3 separate regions of the Homo sapiens genome follow, and all the other regions are linked to region 2. The links come from fine-mapping of genetic effects on gene expression. A gene starts in region 2. Each other region holds a variant in brackets. All regions are shown on one strand. Distances are from middle to middle. Region 1 overlaps NFYC (nuclear transcription factor Y subunit gamma). Region 2 holds the start of NFYC (nuclear transcription factor Y subunit gamma). Region 3 overlaps ZFP69 (ZFP69 zinc finger protein).

Region 1 (8,185 bases), 35 kb after region 2:
CTTTTTTGGAACTAGTACATTTGTTCCAAATTTAATAGTTTAAAGGGCTTAAAAATTATTTCATGTTTATAAAAGAGATAGGAGAACATCTTTCTCTATTTTAATATGTATTTCCATGCATCTGAAACTAGGCTTTTTAAAGAAATATGTCAAAAGCAAAGTAAGTCTAAATTATAGAGAAAAAGAAGCTAGTTGGTCTTTAGGCTCGGTACTGTATCTGGGACTCTTCAGACCAGTAGTTGGTGTCTTGTCTAGCTTCAGGCAGCCATGATGATATGATGCCATCTGGCATTTGTATGAAGCTTGCTATTTTTTGAGGCCTTCTAACATGTGTTTTACCATTTGTGTGTTTCAGCTGCTCTGTGGGATGTTGCTTTAGATGAATAGAGAAGTTTCTAAGAAGTTAAGAGATTTGCTCAAGATCACAGTTCGCCAGAGAGCTAAGAACCCCCAGGTCCAATACATTTTATTTATTTATGTATTTACCTCGTGCTTTAGTGCCCCCAACTGTTCGCAGCTGAGTATTCATAGGTGCTGCTAACCTGCCTAGAGACATGCAAAGGGGAAGGATAAAACAGAAAAGAAAAAAGAGTGACAGCTTAAACAGTGCAAAAAGTGGGAAAGAGCAAGTTATAATAAATCAAGACAGAATTTTAGAGCTTTTGCATTTTGACTCATCATTTATTGTATTGTGATCTTGAGCAAGTAATTTGATATTCAACCCTCAACCTTATCTGTAAAATTGGAATAATATTGGTAAATTTATCACTGAGCTAAGTAAGGGTCAATTGAGGATGATGTATGTGGCATGTATTTTATGAACTCTGAAGCCCGTAAGTTGGCATCTATGAAACATTCTTCAGAATCACACTTCTTCCCTCTGCTAGACACACAAACACAGGATACTGCCAGAAACTGGGCAAGAGGCTGTTTGTGAATCTCAGAAGGCACCCGGTAAGAAAATGATGCTTTGTTTTAGAATACAACTTAACTTAGGCTACAGGCACTCTTTCTGTCTCTAGCTCATGTCACAATTCCTTTTCGGGATTGAGGCCTGAAAAACCAGTTACTCACCATTCTTCCTACAAGGATTTATTTACTCGTTAGGCTGGAGGGTCAGAGAGACTAACAGATACTTCTGTGGGGCAGAGGGGGTCTGGCCCAGCTTACTTCTAATTGAGGATGAACAGGTGAGGGAGGCAGGGGAGCTAAGTAACAGTTGTGTGATCTAGGACCAGCTTCTCAACTTCTAGTGTCAGTTTCCCCATCAGTAAATCAGGGATAAATAAAACACCTAACAGTGCTTTAAAACAAGATCAGAATATTATCTGAAACTTTTTCTTTTCTTTTCTTTTTTTTTTGAGACAGGATCTTGCTCTGCTGTTCCTGCTCAGGCTGGAGTGCAGTGGCGCAATCATGGCTCACTGCAGGCTTGACCACCCAGGCTCAAGCAGTCCTCCCGCCTCAGCCTCGTGAGTAGCTGGGACTACAGGTGTGGGCCACTACACCTGGCTAGTTTTTTATTTTTTATTTTCTATTGAGATGGGGGTCTCACTATGTTGCCCAGGCTGATCTCGAGCTCTTGGGTTCAAGTGATCCTCCCGCCTTGGCCTCCCAGAGTGCTAGGATTAGAGGCATGAGCTACCATGCCTGGCTGAACCTTTTTCCTTAAAGGGCCAGATATTTTAGGCTTTGTGGCTGTATGATTTTTGTTGTAACTCTTCAACTCTACTGTTTAGCATGAACAGACAATATAAACTAATTAGGGGCTGGACATGGTGGCTCACGCCTGTAATCCCAGCGTTTTGGGAGGCCGAGGTGGGCAGATCACTTAAGGTCAGGAGTTCAAGACCAACCTGGTCAACATGGTGAAACCCGTCTCTTCAAAAATACAAAAATTAGCTGGGTGTGATGGCGGGTGCCTATAATCCCAGCTGCTTGGGAGGCTGAGGTGGGAGAATCGCTTGAACCCGGGAGGTGGAGGTTGCAGTGAGCCGAGATCGTGCCATTGTACTCCAGCCTGGATGACAGACTGAGGCTCCGTCTAAAAGTAAATGAATAAATAAATAAATAATTAGGGTTGATGTCTTCCAGTGAAACTGTTTCTAAAAACAGGCTGTAGGCCAGATGTGGCCTATGAGCTGTAGTTTTTAGACCCTTGCTTTAGAATACTTCACTAAATACTTGATCCTTTTTCTTCATCATACAAAATACTGATAGTGTTTTATTGCTGTTATATATGCAGAGATGGTTTAAGTTTGAGCATTGAAAGGATGAGTAAGAATGTGTGTGAAGTAAGATGTTACATATCGTTTTCTATTCCACAGAAAAAAGTTTTCAAATGTTCTGTTCATGCCTTCCCGTCACTTTCATTGTTTATACCAGTTGCTGTGCCTTCATTTTTCTCTAGTTGTGCTACAACTATATTATGATCTGGCCCCTGTTTCAAAGATTATATTGTACTAGATACCAAATAGAAAAGTATTTTTGTTTTTGAAGGAAAAGTGGCTCTTCTGCCAGTTTGAAAATGTGTCCTTGTGTACAGATCTTTAAGGAGAGCAGTGTGCAGCCACTTCTAAGCCTAAGTCTTTTAGGAAGCATGGTTTTCCAGTAGGCACTTTGAAAAGCGGCTTCCTCTTAACACAGATATACCTTCAAACGTCAAACTTGGCATTAATCAGAGTTGGGGAAGTAGAGCTATGTTATTCATTCTTGTATTATAGTAGTGAAGACTATTCAGTAGCCTGCCAGTAAATATGACCAGCTGGTACCCAGCTATGTAAGGGTTTAGAATGTAAGTAATAAGGTTTCAGGCACTAAACGTAGTGCCTGAACTTAGTTTCCTGCATGACTATATAAAAACCTTAGATGAGTTTAAATAGAGACTATTGAACCTTCTCTTCTCTCTAGTCACTTTGCCTTCCCTTGTATTCATTCATTTATTGCATCTTCAAGTAGTGAAGTGTAGGACTTCCCCACCAAACCACCAGAGACCCCTTTGGAATGTGTTCAGTATACATCATTGCTGGAGTGGCTTAGTAGAGTGACTGGCCCAGGGCCACCAGCTAGTAGGCAGCAAGCGTCCAGTACACAGACGTAGGTCTTTTAATTTCCAGACCAGTGCTGTTTTTCTTCTTGTGAAATTGTCAATTTTAGATTGGTTTTATTTTGGAGAGTATAAGCCTTCTTAAGAAATGCTTTTTAGCTGTTGTGATCGATAATAGCATAAGTCCTAAGGTCCATCTGTGTAAACATAAAAACCAAATAGTCTGTTAGTAAATAAATCCTACCCCCCTTTCCCTCATCCATCCATTTATTTTTATTAATATTCTTCCTTTCTCTGTATCTCCCATCATCATTTAAAATATAACATCTTACAAACCTTAGCTCATTTAAATGAAGAAACCTAGAACTAACCTCAGTAAATACCTGAGCAGTACTGGTACATAAAATGCTTGTGATAGTGCTGCCACTAGGGCAAAATACAATAAAGCTAACATTATAATAAAGAGAGTCACACAAATTTGTTGGTTTCCCAGTGCAAATAGAAGTTATGTTTATATTATAGTGTAGCCTATTAAGTGTGCAACAGCATAATGTCTAAAAAATGTGCTTATTTTAATTTTAAAATACCTTATTGGTAAAAATGCAAATTATCATCTGAACTTGCAGCAAGTCATAACCTTTTGCTGCTTGAGGGTCTTGACTTGATGATGATGGCTGCTGACTGATTCGGGTGGTAGTTGCTGAAGTTTGGGGTGGCTTTGGCAATTTCTGTGTATGTGTTTGTGTGTGTGTGTGTGTGTTTTTTTTTGAGATGGAGTTTCGCTCCTGTTGCTCAGGCTGGAGTGCAGTGGCGCCATCTCAGCTCACTGCAACCTCTGCCTCCTGGGCTCAAGCGATTCTGCTGCCCCAGCTTCCCAAGTAGCTGGGATTGCAGGCCCGCACCACCATGCCCAGCTAATTTTTGTATTTTTAGTAGAGACGGGGTTTCACCATGTTGGCCAGGCTGGTTTCGAACTCCTGACCTCAGGTGATCCACCCACCTCAGTCTCCCAAAGTGCTGGGATTACAGGCGTGAGCCACCGCATCTGGCCTGTTTTTTTTTTTTCCTCTCTCCACACTGTCACCCAGGCTGGAGTACAGTGTCATGATCTTGGCTGATTGCAACCTCTGCCTTCCAGGTTCAAGCCATCCTCCTACTTCAGCCTCCCAAGTAGCTGGGACTACAGACACGTGCCACCACACCCAGCTGATTTTTGTATTTTTTGTATAGACAGGGTCTCCTGTGTTGCCCAGACTGATCTTGATGTCTCAAACTCCTGGGCTGAAGTGATCCTCTTGCCCTAGCCTCCCAAAGTGCTGGGATTACTGGCGTGAGCCACTGTGCCTGGCTGGCAATTTCTTAAAATAAGGCAGCAGTGAAGTTTGTTGCTTCAGTTGACTCTTCCTTTCATGAAAGATTTCTCTGTAGCTGCTTTTCTGTTTGATAGCATTTTACCCAGAGTAGAGCTTCTTTCAAAACTGGAGTTTGTCCTCTCAAATCCTGCCACTATTTTATGAACTAAGTTTATATAATATTCTAATGTTCATAGCATTTTCACTGGGAGTAGGTTCCATTTCAAGGAACGACTTTCTTTGCCTTCCATAAGAAGCAACTCCTCATCTGTTAAAGTTTTATCATGAGATTGCAGCAATCCAGTCACATCTCAGGCTCCGCTTCTAATTACAGTTCTCTTGCTATTTCTACCACATCTACAGTTACTTCTTCCACTGAAGTCTCAAACCCCTCAAAATCATCCAGGAGGATTGGAATCAACTTCAGACTCCTGTTAATGTTTATATTTTGACTTCCTCCCATGAATTTTGAATGGCTTTTTTTGTTTGTTTG[T/G]TTGGTTGGTTGGTTGGTTGGTTGGTTTTTGAGACAGGGTCTTACTCTGTTGCCCAGACTGGAGTGCAGTAGCAAGATCTTGGCTCACTGCAGCCCTGATCTCCCAGGCTCAAGTGATCCTCCCACCTCAGCCTCCTAAGTAGTTGGGACAATAAGCATGTGCCACCACAACCAGCTAATTTTTGTATTTTTTGTAGAGACAGGTTTTGCCATGTTGCCCAGGCTGGTTTTGAAGTCCTGAGCTAAAGCAGTCCTCCCGCCTTGGCCTCCCAAACTGCTGGAATTACAGGCCTGAGGCACTGTGCCTGGCCATGAATATTCTTTTTTTTTTTTTTTTGAGACAAAGTCTTGCTCTGTCGCCCAGGCTGGAGTGCAGTGGCACGATTTCGGCTCACTGCAACCTCCGCCTCCCAGATTCAAGTGATTCTCCTGCCTCAGCTTTCCAAGTAGCTGGGATTTCAGGCCCACACCACCATGCCCGGCTAATTTTTGTATTTTTTTAGTAGAGACAGGGTTTCACCATGTTGGCCCGGCTGGTCTCAAACTCATGACCTTGTGATTCGCCCGCCTCGGCCTCCCAAAGTGCTAGGATTACAGGCATGAGTCACCGCGCCCAGCCTGCCATGAATATTCTTAATGGTATTTAAAATGGTGAATCCTGTCTAGAAGGTTTTCAGTTTACTCAGATCTGTCTGAGGAATCCCTGTCTATGGCAGCTGTGTCCTTATGAAGTGTTTTTATTTCTGAGACAGAGTCTCACTCTGTCACCTAGGCTGGAGTGCAGTGGTGTGATCTCGGATCACTGCAGCCTCATGCTTTGGCCTCTAGAGTAGCTGGGACTACAGGCGTGCACCAACAAGCCCTGCTAATTTTTGTGTTTTTAGTAGAGATGGGGTTTCATTATGTTGGCCAGGATGGTCTCGAACTCCTGACCTCAGGTGATCCTTCTGCCTTGGCCTCCCAAAGTGCTGGGATTATAGGCATGAGCCACTGTGCCCGGCCATGTATTTTCTTCAATAATAAGACTTGAATGTTGAAATTACTCTTTGGTCCATGGGCTGCAGAATGGATATTGTGTTAGCAGGTGTTAAAATACTAATCTCGGCTGGGCGCGATGGTTTACACCTGTAATCCCAACACTTTGGGAGGCTGAGGCGGGCGGATTACTTGAAATCAAGAGTTTGAGACCAGTCTGGCCAACGTGGCGAAACCCTGTCTTTACTAAAATTACAAAAATTAGCTGGGCGTGGTGGCGCATGCCTGCCATCCCAGCTACTCGGGAGGCTGGGCATGAGAATCGCTTGAACCCAGAAGGCGGAGGTTGCAGTGACCTGAGATGGCACCACTGCACTCCAGCCTGGGCGACAGAGTGAGACTGTCACAAAACAAAACAAAACTCTGATGGAGTTGTGCAAGCAGATTAATGTTTTTTGTTTTGTTTTTTGAGACGGAGTCTCGCTGTGCTACCCAGGCTGGAGTGCAGTGGTGCAATCTTGGCTCACTGCAACCTCTGCCTCCTGGGTTTAAGCGATTCTCCTGCCTCAGCCTCTTGAGTAGCTGGGATTACAGGTGCCCGCCACCACGCCGAGCTAATTTTTGTATTTTTAATGGAGACTGGGTTTCACTATGTTGGCCAGGCTGGTCTCGAACTCCTGACCTCAGGTTATCCGCCCGCCTTGGCCTCCCAAAGTGTTGGGATTACAGGCGTGAGCCACTGCTCCCAGCCTCCATCAGTTTTTGGATGACCAGGTATATTGTTAGTGAGCAGTAATATTTTCAAAGGAATCTTTTTTTTCTGAGCAGTAGGTCTCAACAGTGAGCTTAAATAGTCAACCACGCTGTAAACAGATGTGCTGTCATCCAAGCTTTGCTCCATTTATAGAGCACAGGCAGAGTAGATTTTGTATAATTCTTAAGGGCCCTAGAATTTTTGGAATGGTAAATGAGCATCGGCTTCCACAGGCATTGACTTCTTTGTAGCTATGAAAGTCCTTGATGGCATCTTCTTCCAGTAAAAGTCCATTTTGTCTGCACTGAAATTCTGTTGTTTAATGTAGCCAGTTGCATCAATTACTCTAGCTAGATCTTCGGGATAAAACTTGCTGCAGCTTCTACATTAGCACTTGCTACTTCACCTTATACTTTTATGTTATGGAGATGGCTTCTTTGCTTAAACCTCATGAACCAACTTTTCTTCTGCAGCCCCCTCACCTCTCTCAGCCTTCATAGAATTGAGAGTTAGGGCATTGCTCCACATTAGGCTTTGGCTTAAAGGAATGTTGTGGTTGGTTTGATCTTCTGTCTAGACCACTGAAACTTTCTTCATATCAGCAATAAAGCTGTTTGCTTTCTTATTTGTGTGTTCACTGGAGGAGCACTTTTAATTTCCTTCAAGAACTTTTTCTTTGCAGTCACAGCTTGGGTAAGTGTTTGGTGCAAGAGGCCTAGCTCTTGGTCCATCTCAGCTCTTTTTTTTTTTTTTGAACCGGAGTCTTGCACTGTCGCCCAGGCTGGAGTGCAATGGTACGATCTCAGCTGACTGCAACCTTCGCCTCCTGGGTTCAAGAGATTCTTCTGCCTCAGCTTCCCAAGTAGCTGGGATTACAGGCGCCCACTACCATGCCTGGCTAATTTTTGTATTTTTGGTAGAGAAGGGGTTTCATCATGTTGGTCAGGGTGGTCTTGAACTCCTGACCTCAGGTGATCCACCCGCCTCGGCCTCCCAAAGTGCTGGGATTACAGGCATGAGCCACCGCGCCCAGCCCCATATCAGCTTTTGATGTGCTTTCCTCACTAAGCTTAATCATTTCTAGCTTTCGATTGATTGAGTTAGAGACAGAGTTTTGTTCTGTCACCCAGGCTGGAGTGTGGTGGCATGATCATAGCTCACTGCTGCCCAAGTGATCCTCCCACCTCAGCCTTCTGAGTAGCTAGGACCACAGGTGCATGCCATCAGCAGGACTGGCTAATTTTTCTTTCTTTTCTTTTTTTTTTTTTTTTTTTTTTGGTAGAGATAGGGGGTGTCTCTCTGTGTTGCCAAGCTGGTCTCGAACTCCTGGATTCATGCAGTCAGCCCTCCTTGGTGCCTCAAAGTTCTGGGATTACAGGCGTGAGCCACCACACCTGGCCTTTAGCTTTTAAGTGAAAGATGTGAGACTGTTCTTTTACTTGAACGCTTAGAGGCCGTTGTAGGGTTATTAAGTGGCGTAATTTCAGTATTGCTGTGTCTCAGGTAATAGGGAGGCCCGAGGTGGGAATGGCCAGTTGGTAGAGCAGTATCTGTGAAGCACAATA
Region 2 (8,185 bases):
GAAGTCTCCACATGGTCATTCTGCCACTCTACTCCATCTTACTCTCTTTTCCAGATTGCTTTTAATCATAGTTTTGATCATGTCACTATCTTCTGTAAAACCTTCTACCATTGGGAATGTAAAATGGTATGATGCTATGGAAAACAGTATGGTGGCTCCTCAAAAAAAAAAAAAAATTAAACATAAGAATTGCCATATAATCCAGCAATTTCACTTCTGGGTATATACCCCCAATAATTGAAAGCAGGGACTCCAACAGATATTTGTATACTAATGTCCACAGAAGCATCATTCACAGTGGCCAAAAGGTGAAAGTAGAATGGTGGTTACCAGAGGCTGGGGAAAAGAGAATAGGGCGTAAGCGTTTAACGTATACAGAATTTCAGTATGGGATAATGACAAATTCTGCTGATGGATGCACAACGTGAACAGGCTTAATGTCACTGAAATGTATACTTAAAGATGGTTAAATTTAGGCCAGGGGCGGTGGCTCACGTCTGTAATCCCAGCACTTTGGGAGGCCAAGGCAGGTGGATCACCTGAGGTCAGGAGTTCCAGACCAGCCTGATCAACATAATGAAACCCCGTCTCTACTAAAAACACAAAAATTAGCCGGGCCTGGTGGCACGCGCCTGTAATCCCAGCTACTCGGTAGGCTGAGAAAGGAGAATCGCTTGAACCCGAGAGGCGGAGGTCGCAGTGAACCGAGATTGCACCATTGCACTGCAGCCCCGGCAACAAGAGCAAAACTCCATCTCCTAAAAAAAAAAAAAAAAAAAAATGGTTAAACCTGTTTAAAAGCAAAACAAAAAACTTCTACCACTCACTTCCCGTATCAGAAAATAAAGCCCAAGAGCCTTAATTTAACCATAATAATGTATCTTTCCATGATTCTTCTTCCATTCCCTCTTACTCTGTGTTTCCTCAACTGATCCCTCGCTTCTTCTATTTGCTTTAGTGGCTGCCTACATGTCTTCCCTAATTTTACTCATTTTTCAAGACCCAGTTCAAATGTCACATCCTTGCAAATCTTTCCTGAACTCCTCCCACTATTTCATACTAAGTGGAAGTAAGCTTTCCCTTTTTGAACTCCAGCAGCACATGAACTATATCTTTTAGTGCCGCTTTTCTATTTTTTGAGACAGAGTCTCGCTCTGTCACCTAGGCTAGAGTGCAATGGTGCGATCTCGGCTCATTGCAACCTCTGCCTCCCAGGTTCAAGTGATTCTCCTGCCTCAGCCTCCTGAGTAGCTGGGATTACAGGCGTGTGCCACCATGCCCGGCTAATTTTTGTATTTTCAGTAGAGACGGGGTTTTACCATGTTGATCAGGCTGGTCTCGAACTCCTGACCTCGTGATCTGCCCGCCTCAGCCTCCCAAAGTGCTGGAATTACAGGTGTGAGCCACCACGCCTGGCCAGCGCTGCTTTTCTTTTAGGCCAAAGGTACACAATGAGATAGAGAGGTGTGGCTTAAGGAAGTCCAGCTGGCTGTCTAGACAGGTTCTGTTATACAGTGCTATAACCTTAAGGAATTTACCATGATACAAGAACTGATGTTTAACCTTGCAAACTCAGAAACCTAATTTTAATAGTAAGCAGAAAGTTGAACCATTTCCTGGGGGTAGGGGGTGTCTTGTATTTGCCAAGCTCACAGAAACTTTTATATAAAGAGGAATCTAACTGATTAGTTACAATGAAAAATACAATGATCAAAAGAACTAGAATACTCTAGGTGGCAGATCACTTAATTCTGTCCCTATCGCCAAGACACTTGCTGGGTGAACATAGAGGAAAGCATGTTGATCTTAAGAAGTATTTCTTAGCTGAGGCAGTCTGAGATATTCCCATCCACTACAGAGATGACACGGGCAAGGAAATCCTAATGCTCAGTGTGGCTTAATTGAGATGAGGCTTAGAGGGGCAATGGTAGTGCTAGCCTTTGTGACTGCCTTGTTTTGGGCTGCCATGGCTGAGCAAGCCCTTTTGTTCACAGAATCTCTCTCCAAACAGGGTACAGAATGGCTGACGAGATTGATTAGGTTCCATTTATTAAATTACAATATCTACCTTCTTCAGGTTCCTCCCATATGCCCTTTATCAGAGTTTGTTTTGTTTTGTTTGGTCATGTTTGTAAAAAAGGTCTTGGCTTACCCCCATGGATAGCTAATTTCATGGTTGTATTAGTCTGCTTAGCTAGCATGTTATGCTGCAGTAACAACGAAAACAATCTCAGTGGCTTACAACAAAGGTTTATTTATTGTTCACACAACATTACAGGTTATGTGTGTCAGCTGTCGCTCTGCACATCTTCATTCTGGGACCAAAGCTGAAGAGGGAGCTCTATTTAGGACATGCTGCTCTTGTGTCAGAGGAAAGATAATATGGCAAAATTGTAAGATAGCTCATAAATTTCTGCTCAGAAGTGGTTCATGCCATTTCTTTCTTTCTTTTTTTGAGACAGAGTCTCACTCTGTCGCCCAGGCTGGAGTGCAGTGGCGTGATATTTGCTCACTGCAACCTCCAACTCCCTGGTTAAAGCAATTCTCCTGCCTCAGCCTCCCGAGTAGCTGGGATTGCAGGTGCCTGCCACCACACCTGGCTAATTTTTTTATTTTTAGTAGAGACAGGGCTTCACCATCTTGGCCAGGCTGGTCTTGAACTCCTGACCTCGTCATCCACCCACCTCGGCCTCCCAAAGTGCTGGGATTACAGGTGTGAGCCACCGTGCCCGGCCGGTTCATGCCATTTCTACTCATATTTCATTGGTCAAAACAAGGCCAAGCTTGACGACATTAGGGTGAGAAGTCTTTCACCCTAATCTCCTAGGGACAGGCCAGATAGCAACGGCTTTAGAAAGGGAAGGGCGGAGGCTATTGATAATAAAGACTATAGCAAGGACTAATATTAGGCTTATATGTATCAATTGACTGTTATCAGTTATAACATTGACTATTAAAATACTGAAATACTCTAGTACTACCTGGTAAATAGCTGCTGTCCCAAACCTCCTGACCACTCCCTTCCCCTGGGATCCCTTGGGACCTCCTATTCACAAACCAGCAACTGAAGGGTTAACACCTAGCACAGACGTATACCTCCAGGATCCTAGCTGCATTTCTAATTCTGCTTCATCTATGCTTGAGCACTACTTGTTGTTAAATATACTTAATATCACTCTTAGCTAATTTCCTCTATGTAGATTTTTATTTATTTCTGAGGGCAACCCAACTTCCAGGCTCTTGGAAGGAAATAGACTGCAGCCCCTAAGTGTGATCAATACTTAATTATAACAATAATCACTAATAATAACTTGTGCTGCTTCATTGTAACTAAATGTACACTTTTACATTTTTTGGCAAGCATAGTATATGCAATAAGTACTCAATAAACATCTGTAGAGAGACTTATTTAGCTTTTTTCCATTAGCTACATCTGTCTCTACAATCTCAACATACTATTCTCTTGAATCTGTTTTTAATTTTATGCCATTTCTCATGTCTGAAAATGTCATTATAAGTAACTTTTTTTTTTTCTGAGACAGGGCCTCGCACTGTCGCCCATGCTAGAGTGCAGCGAGACACTCGTAGCTCTTACCAGTAACTTCTTTATAACACTTTTGCAATTTACGAAGCACTCTCACATTATTTCATTCACTCTCCCCAACATTACCAAAAGTTAGGAATTAGATCTTTTTACAGATGAAGGAATTGAGACTCCCTGAAGTCAAGTGTCTTATAGTTAGGTTTTGTTCATTCATTCATCAAATAGAGTGCCTGATGTGAGATTTATTGAAACTGGATTTGAAAACAATTTTCCTGAATTCAAGTCGAGGGTTTACTCCACTATTCTCAATTACTTTATCACCAGGGTTATAAACCCAAAGGAAGTGAGTAACAACAGTGTGATTTTATTGAGGACCCATGCAACACTAGTCTCAGAAAGGCTCCAGTGTCATTTGTAAAATTCAAGGTTACCATCAGCAGAGGCAGTCATTCCTCTCTGCGCTTGTTACCTAATGCACTAACTCTCACTGTAGGTAATTCCATTCAAGACACATTTGATGACTATACCTACAGGTTTTGAAGTTATTCGGATGGGGTTTTGACACTTACTAGCTGTGGGGACTTAGATCAAGTTACTTAACCTTTTTGAGCTTCAGTTTTATCATTTGTAAAATGGATACAATCCTGATGCCTTTGGACCAAGTGGTCACGGAAATGAAAGAGATAAGTATGAAAAAATCCATGCTCATAGTAGCTGTGGTTTCCAACTGCGTGATAAAACTTTAAAATCTGCATTCAAATAAGAACAACTATGTCGACGTAAGGTTACAAGCTAACTATTCTTGGTAAGTACTGTTCTTTATTCTAGAGGACATCACTTTACAGTTTGGTGCTAAATGCTCTTTTATGAATTTAAGGTGCCAGTAGCTGTCTACTTGAACGGCATGCTTAATCTGGAACGCCATGTCGACCTTCATCCCCCAGTTCTTTCTCCCCAAATTAAAAACACAAATACACACACACGCCCCTACTTAGTTCCTAAAACTCAAGGGCACGCGCACACACCTACTTATTTCCTAAAATTCAAGCTCGCACCAAGGAGATCCACAAGGATAGGCAGGGTGGTGGAGGTCACTGGGCAGCGCCTCCGGATCCCCCGAAAGGGGGCGGGGTCAAAACTCAGATCTCGAGCTCCCGAAAGGGGGCGGGGTTAAAACTCTCAGATCTCATTCCGCCTCCCTCTGTCGTCGCCCCTTCCCAATTCTCGCGAGACCTCAAGGAGCACAGCTTCTGCGCACCGCACGATACTGGGAGTCCAGGCGCCAAGGGAGGGGGAAGGGAAAAGGGGAAACGGTGCAAACGGCGTGGCCGCCATCTTGCTTGTGCCCCCGCTTCGCGCGCGCTCCGTTCTCCGTGACGCACACTTCCCCCTCCCCTCCGCCGCGCCTGGGCCTCTGCATTGCCCGACTCCGTAGGAGCGCGGGGGCGGCTCCTGCTCTTCCTGGACTCCTGAGCAGAGGTGTGTGAGTGTGCGGGAGTTTCTGTGCGAGGGTGATAGGGAAGCGGCGGCGGGGGGAGGGGCAGCGCTTCCCGCCTTCGCCAGAGACCTCACTTCCTCGCGCGGCCGCTGCTGTAGCTCGGTCCGTCCTGCCCGCCGCCATGTTGTGCTCTTGCCTGGCCCGCTGCTGTCGCCGCCGCCGCGCTCGTGGGGTCCGTGTGCCTCGTCGGCCCGGCCCGCGGGCTTTCTCCCATTGGCGGAAGGCGACGGCGGGGGGGCTCGCTCGTGATTGGTCGGTGGCGGGGAGGCCGCGGACCTGGCACCTTATTGGACGCGCCAGCTCCGGTCTAGGGGGTGATGAAGGAATCTGAGGCTGCGGGGATGCGCGCGTCTTGGGCTAGGGCGGCTGGGGCAATGACCCCCTGCGGCGCAGGCGTGGGGTTGCGGCGAGAGGGCGAGCCTAGAGGCTTTAAGGGGGAAGAGAGGGTGATGGCCTGGCAGGTACTTTGGGGGTAGCTTAGGCCATGGCCTGGGAATGGGGGACACTCACTTTCAGAGGTGCTTTTCCTGGTACATGCATGGCCCAAGATTGGGGTGTGCAGGCCCTCAGGGTTCCAGGCTTGGAAACACCGAAACCCAAGTGACAGGCTGAGAGTCTTCGAGATCCAGGGTTGCTAATGTGACCCAGTTTGGAAGTGGCCCTGAAGTCCACGGTGTGAGTGTATGGTGTAGGAAGAAAGGCATCAGGGCTAGGGGCATAGCTGAACGGTAGAATCGGATCAGGGATTTTGCTGGAGAGTGCAAGCATTCAAACACTGAGGTTTTGGTGGAGCCCTGGAGTCCAGAGTCAACGGACCTGGGATGTGATGTGAGGAGCAAGTAAACCGAGAGAGGAATGCTATTGAGAAGTGTGCTCTGTCCGAGCCTAGGAAGCACAGCATTAAGTAGTATCAGATTTAAAGTGACAAAATCTGATATAGGAAGCATTTTAGGGGACATTTTCGGACTTGGGAAGTGTATTAATAGAACAGTTATACATTATTGAGTCTCAGGACCATACAAGTAGTTTTGAGATGTTGTATATGAAATTTGCTGCTCTAGGAAGGATACAGGTCATGGCTGAGTTTCCAAAGCCACATTAGCAAATATTAGGTAGTTGGTAGTTATTTGTTGAGTAAATATTGTTAGGTTCCCCTTTAAGGGAAAGGGAGCTAGCCAGAAATTTTCGGTCTTGGTTTATTTCCTTGTATATGTGCCTAAAAAGTATACCCATTCCCATGTGTACTTTGAATTTTTTGTTTGTTTTTTCAAATAAGCAGCTCCAAACCAAAAAAAAGCCCATGCATAGCTTCTTAAGGAACAGGACTTGTCAACACTTTCTGGTTCATATTCAAAAAGTTTTTATTCCAATCCAGAGTCGTTCCAGTCAACTTGTTGGGAATATGTTCTTTTCCACTGAATCTGAATCGTAGTTACTTGTATTGCTTTACATTTGCTCGTCCCAGTGTGTGAGGGCCATGGAAACACATTTATGTTAAACATCTGTGTTTTCCTAATTTGTTTTTCCTTGTTTTTGTTAGGTAGTCCTTTTTAGCTTTAGATGGTACTCTTCTGTTTTCATACCAATTTCAAGAAACTCCTAGGGTTTTCAAATTTAGTTTTATGTGAATGCAACTACATTTTCTGGAGAAGGGAATTGATAAGTAGCAGAGGAAGAGAATTGCTATTTTGGGGCATATTTTAACTCCAATAGGTAGGCATTATCGTCCCCATATTGCAGATGAGGAAACTGAGGATCAGAGAGTTTAAGTAGCTTGTCTGGTGTCACTCAGTAAGTGGTTGAGCTAGAATTCAAACCCTGGTTGCCTGATGCCAAAGCCTGTAATTTTATCTGCTACATCAGCTATCAACATAAACCTGACTAATGAAACTTCCAGATAATTTTGTATTTCCAAGTGGATCATCTACTTTGATTTCTGGGTGTTTAGAGTGTATAAAATGGAAGACTATAATTCTTAAGAATTTCTTGTGCTGCTTAAGGATTCAGACCACAGAATTGTAACCATAGAGAATATGGGTTCTTCAGCTAGGTATTCAAATCATATCCCTTGGCTTCTATTGTGAAAGGGAAGATTTACCAAGTAAATTGCTGCATTTTTTCCTGAATCCAGGTAGATAATGGGGAAAAATATGTACAGAAACTTGAAGAATCTGCATTCCTTAAAACCAAGCTTCAGAATATTGCAGATAGTCTTTCTGTATGTGGAGGTAATTTATGCCAAATGGCGAGGAACTACCAAGTGCCTAGTGTAAAGAGCTCACTGGAGAGGTTTTTCAAGCATCACCAGTTCCTTAGGGTGTCCCCAAATACCAGGACCTATTCAAAGGCCTAGTGCTTTCTTCAGACTGTGGGATATTGATTCTAGGATATGCTTATCCTGAACAATGTGTAAAATTAAGACTGGATAGGACAAAATATTTGCAGTTCCAATTTTGCATGGAAACCTTTAAATCAGGGTTTGAGAGGAGACCAGTGAGTTGGAAATCTTAATTGCTTTATGTCTTGATGTGCTTAGGTGAAGCCCTCCCTCATTTTTGTTTACAATAACGTTTCACTGTGGAAGATAGAGGCAAAGCTACAAGTGAAAATAGGGTTTGCCATGTATTTTGTACATTGGTCATTTCAGCCTCATTTGGCTCAGTCATCAAGTTAACCAAATATGAAGAATGCTGTAGATCTATAACTTAGTTTCGTTTTTAGTAAGACTAGACAAGGTGATAAAAATGAGTGTATATGTACACCTTTTTTTTTTCAGCAGGCATTTCTGGAGCAACCTGCCCTTCAACATTGGTGACCACCTTCATTCCATGTTAGCCCCTTATACCCATGGCCACCTTGTTAAGATCTGGAATTGACCACTCTAGAAATCTTGAACTCTCAGGAAATCTCAGTAGATCTGAGTTTATGTTGAAAACTTGTGAACCTCAGCTTTTTCTTCAGGCAGAAATCATACTAAGATTTATACTTTATAGGCTGTGTTCATGGCATCTTATTTAATTCTTATGACAAATCTGTTATCTCATTTATACTTACACATTTTTTTCTTTGGTCAGAACTACTAGAGACTGGGCGCAGTGGCTCACGCCTCTAATCCCAGCGTTTTGGGAGGCTGAGGCAGGTGG
Region 3 (8,185 bases), 210 kb before region 2:
TCACTGCAACTCCTGCCTCCCAGGTTCAAGCGATTCTCCTGCCTCAGCCTCCTGAGCAGCTGGGACTACAGGTGCCTGCCACCACGCCTGGCTAATTTTTGCATTGCTTTTTACATATTTGATAGCAGTTTTTTTTTTATTGGTTACAAAACCTAAGCCCATATACAGAATTAGGAACACAGTTAGATGCCTCTTTTGAAAGAACATTTTAGTCTTTTTAAACTGAGTTAAAAAAAAAAAACCATGCAATTTTCAAACACTGTTTTGAAAACTTAAAAGTGCAGCAATATACTTAGTTTCCTTTATCTACAAAATGGTGCAATTCCACTTCAAAACTGGTAAGGTCACAACAAATTGAATCAAGGAAATGCATACAAATGTCTGCACTACTTGATGCTAATGTTTATTTGAATGTTAGTTTGTACTTTCAAACATGAGAGGAAATAGGAATCATCACAGTAGAGGCCCAATTTTAATCATAATGTGTGCAAATTTAAATTAAAATTAAAAGGTAGTCAGTTAAGGAAAGTCCAGAAGAAACTAAACTGGAAGGAGTACAATTCACAATATCAAGAAGATTTGGACTTCAAGGGTTTCATCGAAGTTTGTGACCTTAATTAGCTTTTACGTTGTTACAGTTTTTATATTTTTAGTAGAGCTGGGGTTTCACCATAATGGCCAGGCTGGTCTCGAACTCCTGACCTCGTGATCCACCTGCCTCGGCCTCCCAAAGTTCTGAGATTACAGGCATGAGCCACTGCGCCCGGCCTGGTTGTATGTATTTAAGAAATTTTCACAGAGCAGGTAGCATTGATTTGGGCCTTGAAGAATGTCTTAGGTTTTTTGTGTAGATTTGGGGAAAGGATACAAAAGTGGGTGCCTTGAAGAAAATGGGGCATCTTTAGTCTGACTGAGAATCTTTAGTCTGAAAGACTAATAATGTGGTGGGTGGGTGGGTGTGTCCCAGGTATAAAGTAGCAGTACCCATTGTTGAGAAAATATGCTTTGGGCAGATTGTAGAGTGCCTTGAAGTCCATGGTGAAGTGTTTGGATTTTTCCTTCTTGTCAGTGGGGAACCTTTGAGGATTTTTGAACAAAGGAGTGGCCTGTTAGAGCTGTGCTTTTGGACCAGTATTGACCATTGGTAGAGTTTTTTGGAGGGGGGAGTGGGATTTAAAGGATTCTCCATTTAAATACTTTGTTCTCTCATACATAGTTTTTGATCACTGGGAAACATTAATGCCCAAAGCGACTTGCAGCAGGTCCTCCTCACTAAGGAGGCTTCAGGCTGCTCTTGAGTCACTCTCAGTGTCCCTCTTTGTGAACCTTTTTGGGGGAGGAGCCACATTGAGTGGGTCTGCAGGCAATTTCTTTATTTGGGAGATTTGGGGAGATGCAAAGCTCATGGCTCTTTTCCTTCCCCAGCTCTGCTGTCTCAGGATGCTGAGGACGTAAAGACCCAGAGAGAAAGTTTAGAGGATGAAGTGACCCCTGGACTCCCGACAGCAGAATCCCAGGTGAGTAGGGATTCATCTCATTTTCTTGACATTGCTTCTCCTGTTTTTAGGGTATATAACCTGTCTTTTTTGCAGAGGTGGGAGTGGTGGTGAGGTAGGGTATTAAGACTAACAAATTCAACCTAAGGAGCTCAATGCAAGTTGTCCTTTTACAGAAAATTGGGCTCCAGTGGTGGCAATTCCCCTACTTATAGGGGTCTCCCTCCATGTCACTCTTGTTTCTCACCAACATCTGAATCTAGTATGATGCTACTTTCTATAAAGAAAGTGAAATGAGAGATATAATTCTAGCCCCTAAAAACCAACCGATACCACATGAGATCTAAGAGAAATCTCAATGAAATACTCAAAATCAAAATGTGTAAGAAGGTTCTTTCTTAGTGATGTACATGAATTACTGTGAACTTTGAGAGGTGACCCTTAGTGTAATATTGAAAACAGAGGTCAAACCAGAACCAAAGGAGAAGTGAGTAGAAAAGAAATAGGCCACACAGTGCACACATCAGACGGGCTGGCCAGAAAAGCTAGAGTAGCCACTGAGAGCAGCTACAACAGCATGTCACAAATGGGATAGTCAGTACTGCCTATCGGAAACAGAGATGAAATGGAAGGAAAATTGTAGAATAAATGTGAAAGAAAGACTTAAAAGAGGAGATCTTATTGGAGGACAGAAGGGTTTGAAGTGAAATGAACTGGAGTGCTGAAATTAGATGGTATAACATTTGTCTAGTTGCTCAGTGATCTGGGGCAATTACTTTAGCTTTTGTTTTTTTTTGAGACAGTTTCAAGTTTAAAGTAAAAAGATGAAAAAAGCTATACCGTACAAACAATAATTAAAAGAACATTGGAGGCATATATTATATCACGCAAAGTGGACTTCTGGAAAAGGAGTATTCCTAGGCAAAAAGGGACATTTCATAATAATAAGAGGGTCAACAATTCTAAGTGTTTATACATGTGATGACAGAACTTCAAAATAAAGCAAAATTGACAGAACTAAAGAGAGATATAGACAAAATCACAGTAATTAGAAACTTTAACACTTCTTTCTCAGTAATTGATGTAACCAGTAGACAAAAACTCATCAAGGATACAGAAGATTTGAACAACACTATCAACCAATTTAACCTAATTAACACTTACGGAACACTACGTCTAACAACTACAGAACATATATTCTTTTTAAAAATAGAGATCTCATTTTTAAATGAGATCTGCGGGTGGGGTGGAATAAACTGGTGGATCAACTGGGGGTGGAGTGGAATACCGTTTAAAAAGGGGCATGAAGGAACGTTCTGAGATGGTGGAAATGTTCTCTATCTTGATTACATTATGTTACATATGTCAAAATCAAACCATACACCTTTTTTAATTTTTTTTTTTTTTTTTTTTAGAGACTGAGTCTCACTTTGTAGCTCAGGCTGCAGTGCAGTGGTACAATCATAACTCATTGCAACCTCAAACTCTTGGGCTCAAGCAGTTCTCCTGCCTAAGCCTCCCAAGTAGCTAGGACTACAGGAACATGCCACCATACTTTGCCAATTAAAAAAATGACAGAAAAAATAGGGTCTTACTATGTTGTCCAACTGGTCTCAAACTCTTCAGCTCAAACAATCCTTCTGCCTCGGCCTCCCAAAGTGCTGGGATTACAGACGAGCCACTGCACCCAGCCCAAACTGTACACTTTCTTAGTGTATTTTCCTGTATGTAAATTGTACTTCAGTTTAAAAAAATTTAATCCTTTAAACCCATCAGTTTATGATAAATGTAGGAAGTGAAAAATTCCAGATAAGTAGAATGTAGCGATAACTCTTCAGACTATTATCGTTACTTCTTCCATATTACTAGAAATAAAGCTGCAATATATTCCAATCCTAGATGGCAGATATTAGCATTTGACCTTCTTATTTGAGGACACTGAGATTGTAAAAAGCTTAAGTGGCCGGGCATGGTGGCTCATGCCTGTGGTCCCAGCACTTTGGGAGCCAGAGGCAGAAAGATCACCTGAGGTCAGGAGTTCAAGACCAGCCTGTCCAACATCGAGAAACCCCGTCTCTACTACAAATACAATATTAGCTGGACGTGGTGGTGTGTGCCTGTAATCCCAGCTACTCTGGCGGCTGAGGCAGGAGAATCACTTGAACCCGGGAGGCGGAGGTTGCATGAGCCGAGATTGCGCCATTGCACTCTAGCCTGGGCAACAAGAGCAAAACTCCGTCTCAAAAAAAATAAATAAATAAAATAAATAAAACAATCAGTATGGTTGGGTCTAAGTGTATACTTTTGTTTGCTATTTGTCCTATCTAGCCTTTGTTTATTTGTTTCTCTTTTCCTGCCTTCTTTTTGTTTGGTTTTGTTTTTTAAAGACAGAGTCTCCCTCTGTCACCCAGGCTGGACTGCAGTGGTGCGATCTCAGCTCACTACAACCTCCACCTCCTGGGTTCAAGCGATTCTCCAGCCTCAGCCTCCCGAGTAGCTGAGATTACAGGTGCCTGCCACCACACCTGGCTAATTTTGTATTTTTAGTAGAGATGGGGTTTCACCATGTTGGCTAGGCTGGTCTCAAGCTCTTAACCTCAAGTTACCTGCCCACCTCAGCCTCCGAAAGTGCTGGGATTACAGGTGTGAGCCACCGTGCCCAGCCTTTTTCTGCCTTCTTTTGCATTGAATCATTTTTCCAGTATTCCATTTGATGTCCTCTAATGACTTTTAAGCTACAGTTCTTTGATTTTTTTTTTTTAATTGAGACAGAGTCTTGCTCTGTTGCCCAGGCTGGAGTGCAGTGGTGCAATCTTGGCTCATTGCAACCTCTACGTCCTGGGTTCAAGCAATTCTGCCTTAGCCTCCTGAGTAGCTGGGACTACAGGC[G/A]CGTGCCACCACACCCGGCTAATTTTTTTTTTGTATTTTTAGCAGAGACGAGGTTTTACTGTGTTAGCCAGGATGGTCTTGATCTCCTGACCTCGTGATCCGCCCGCCTCTCCCTCCCAAAGGGCTGAGATTACAGGCATGAGCCACTGCGCCTGGCCTGCTTTTTTTTTTTTTTTTTTTTTTTTTTGATATGGAGTTTCACTCTTGTTGCCCAGGCTGGAGTGCAGTGGCATGATCTCGGCTCACTGCAACCTCTGCCTTCCAGGTTCAAGCGATTCTCCTGCCTCAGCCTCTCGAGTAGCTGGGATTACAGGCTCCCACCACCATGCCTGGCTAATTTTTGTATTTTTAGTAGAGACTGGGTTTTGCCATGGTGGCCGGGCTGGTCTCGAAATCCTGACCTCAGGTGATCCACCCACCTTGGCCTCCCAAAGTGCTGGGATTACAGGCGTGAACCACTGAGTCTGGCCAGTTCTTTATTTTTAGTGGTTGCCCTAACAACCACTAAAAACAATCATATTATATGTGAGGCCATATAATATTAATTCAAAGTAACTGTGGAATGTTACAAATGTATTTAACATTACACATGTTACAAAAGTAACATTCCACAGTTACTTTGAATTAATGTTTTATGGCTTCACATATCATATGAAAGACTTACGTTATATTTTCATATACTCCTTCCCACTCTTAGTGTGTTGTCAATATACATTTTGTTTTACATGTAAAAACACCACAGTATATTGTTCTTAATTTTGCTTTTAATAGTAAACTGTCTTATAACAAATTATGAAAATGGAAAAAAACATGTCTTTCTTATTTGCCCTCATATTTATCCATTTAGGCACTCTTCCTTTTTCCCTTTCATTCCAGGTTTCTATCTTGCATCATTTCCCTTCAGCTTAAAGAACTTTGTTTAGCATTTCTTATAATGTGGGTGTTCTGGTGACAAATTCTCACTTTTATTGATCTAAACATTTCTTTATATTATCTTCCTATTTGAGGATCTTATTGGATAAAGAATTCTAGGTTGACTGCTTTTTCTTTAAGTAGTTTAAAAATGTTCCATTATCTTTTAGATTGTATTATCTGTGATGAGAAGGCAGGTGTTATTCTTTTTATGTGATGTATCTGTTTTATATCAACTTTTATCTGATGTGCATAGGTGTGATTTGTTGTTGTTGTTGTTGTTTTTTGAGACGGAGTCTTGCTCTGTCACCCAGGCAGGAGTGCAGTGGCATGATCTTGGCCCACTGCAACCTCCACCTCCTGGGTTCAAGCAATCCTCTCACATCAGCCTCTCAAGTAGCTAGGATAACAGATGTAAACTACCACACCCGCCTTATTTTATTTTATTTTATTTTTTATTTTGTGTATTTTTAGTAGAGATGGGGTTTCACCATGTTGGCCAGGCTGGTCTCAAACTCCTGACCTCAAGTGATCTGCCACCATAGCCTCCCAAAGTGCTGGGATTACAGGCATGAGCCACTGTGCCTTGCTGTGATTTTTGAGTTTATCCTTTTTGGGGTTTGCTGAGCTTCTTGGATCTGTGGGTTGATTTTTTTTCCTATTAGTTTGGAAAATCTTCAGCCATTATTTTTCAAATATTTTTTCTACCTATTCCCTCTTCTGAGATTGCTCTTTCTCCCTCCCTGCTTCCCTTCCTCCCTTCCTCCCTCCTTTCCTCCCTCCCTCCCTTCCTTCCTTCCTTCCCTTCCTCCCTCCCTCCATCCCTCCCTCCCTCCTTTCTTCCTCCCTCCCTCCCTCCCTCCCACCACTACCTCTCAGGCTTAAGTGATCCTCCTGCCTCAGCCTCCTGAGCAGCTGGGGCTACAAGTGTGCGCCACCATGCCTGGCTAATTTTTGTATTTTTTTTTGTAGAGACAGGGTCTTCCTATGTTGCCTAGGCTGGTCTCAAACTCTTGAGCTCAAGCAGTCCTCCTGCCTTGGCCTTCCAAAGTGCTAGGATTACAGGCAGGAGCCATCCCACCTAGCCCTGAGATTCTAATTACATGTATAATAGACCACTTGATATTATCCCACAGATTTTTTTCTCTTGGTACTCTAGTTTGAATAATATTTATTGACCCATCTTAAGTTTCACTGATCTTATCTCATCATGGTCTAATCTACTTTAAGCCCATCCAATGAATTTTTAGATATTGTCTTTTTCACTTGTAGAATTTTCATTTACAGTTGATTTTTTTTTTTTTTTTTTAAGATGGAGTCTTGCTCTGTCACCAGGCTGGAGTGCAGTGGCGAGATCTCGGCTCACTGCAACCTCCGCCTCCCGGGTTCAAGTGATTCTTCTGCCTCAGCCTTCCGAGTAGCTGGGACTACAGGCATGCACCACCATGCCCAGCTAATTTTTGTATTTTTAGTAGAGACAGGGTTTCACCATGTTGGCCAGGATGGTCTTGATATCTTGACCTCATGATCCGCCCGCATCAGCCTCCCAAAGTGCTGGGATTACAGGCATGAGCCACTGCGCCCGGCCTACAGTTGATTCTTGAGCAGCGCAGGTTTGAACTGTGCAGGTCCACTTCTATATAGACTTTTTTCAATAAATATATTGAAACATTTTTTGGAGATTTGTGACAATTTGAAAAAACTTGCAGATGGACCATGTAGCCTAGGAGTATCAAAAAAATTAAGAAAAAGTTAGGTATGTTATGAATACATAAAATATATGTAGGTACTAGTCTATTTTATCATTTACTACCATAAGAGATACACGTATCTATTATAAAAAGTTAAAAATTTTCAAAGCTTATGTGCACAGACTATTCATGGTGCCATTCTCAGTTGAGAGAAATGTAAACAAATGTAAAGATGCAGTATTAAATCACTACTGCATAAAATAAACTATAGTACACCTAGTGTATTAGTATGATAATTTTATAGCTATCTCCTGTGGCTATTGTAGTGCGCTCAGGTGTTTCAAGTATTTACTTAAAATTCAGTGTGATGCTAAGCATCTCTGCATTAGCACTTCATCTCTCCGGTAAATTGCATATCACAGTAAAAAGTGATCTCTCAGGCCGGGCGCGGTGGCTCACGCCTGTAATCCCAGCACTTCAGGAGGCTGAGGTGGGCGAATCACCTGAGGCCAGGAGTTCGAGACCAGTCTGACCAACATGGTGAAACCCGGTCTCTACTAAAAATACAAAAATTAGCTGGGCGTGGTGGCGTGCGCCTGTAATACCAGCTACCTGGGAGGCTGAGGCAGGAGAATCACTTGAACCCGGGAGGTGGCAGTGAGCTGAGCTCGCACCACTGCACTCCAGCCTGGACAACAGGGTGAGACTCTGTCTCAAAAAAAAAAAAAAAAAAGTGATCTCTAAGCCGGGCACGGTGTCTCATGCCTGTAATGCGAACACTTTGAGGGGCCAAGGCAGGAGTGCATGTGTATATACATACATACATGTGTGTGTTTTGTATGTATACACACACACACACACACATAGTTTATTCATGTGTTTTGATTTGTTCTATTTCCAAACCCTTTCGTCTCTCTGGTGGTTAAGGTGAGGGGCTCCTCCTAGAGCTGTGGCTGAGCTCTGGCTATCATGCAGCTTTAATTTGATTGAGTATACTTCTGATTAGCCCATGCCACAATTGCTGAGGGCTTTTCTTTTTATCTTTTTGGCATTTGAGCTTAGGAAGGGATTAGACTACAGTTCCAGACAGTTTTGTTCATTTTTGCATTAAACTCCAGCAGGGCCTCAGAATTCAAGTTCAGTAAGAATGCACAGGTCTTTGTGACAATAAGTGCGTGAGGTGGTGGGGGAACCCCT

Evidence for each region. PIP is the estimated chance that this variant, and not a neighbour inherited with it, causes the effect.
Region 1: its variant is the best candidate, but not a certain one, in a credible set for the expression of NFYC in whole blood (TOPMed, PIP 0.81).
Region 3: its variant is the best candidate, but not a certain one, in a credible set for the expression of NFYC in whole blood (INTERVAL, PIP 0.63).

Annotation. Positions count from the first base shown.
Region 1 is chr1:40,722,321-40,730,505 of GRCh38, forward strand. The region is part of intron 1 of NFYC (nuclear transcription factor Y subunit gamma); the gene reads left to right. Among named protein-coding and RNA genes, the nearest start is that of MIR30E, 28 kb to the right of the region's middle. The variant T/G (reference allele first, on the strand shown) is at 4,892.
Region 2 is chr1:40,686,845-40,695,029 of GRCh38, forward strand. It overlaps NFYC (nuclear transcription factor Y subunit gamma), which reads left to right and starts at 4,860. Exons shown (of 10, transcript NM_014223.5): 1 at 4,860-5,023. NFYC-AS1 (NFYC antisense RNA 1) reads right to left here and starts at 5,417. Exons shown (of 1, transcript NR_024567.1): 1 at 2,236-5,417. It also overlaps a transcript of RIMS3 not described here. RefSeq lists a silencer at 5,268-5,367 and enhancers at 5,608-5,777, 5,798-5,847.
Region 3 is chr1:40,480,338-40,488,522 of GRCh38, forward strand. ZFP69 (ZFP69 zinc finger protein) reads left to right here. Exons shown (of 6, transcript NM_001320179.2): 3 at 1,426-1,517. Among named protein-coding and RNA genes, the nearest start is that of ZFP69, 7.1 kb to the left of the region's middle. The variant G/A (reference allele first, on the strand shown) is at 4,386.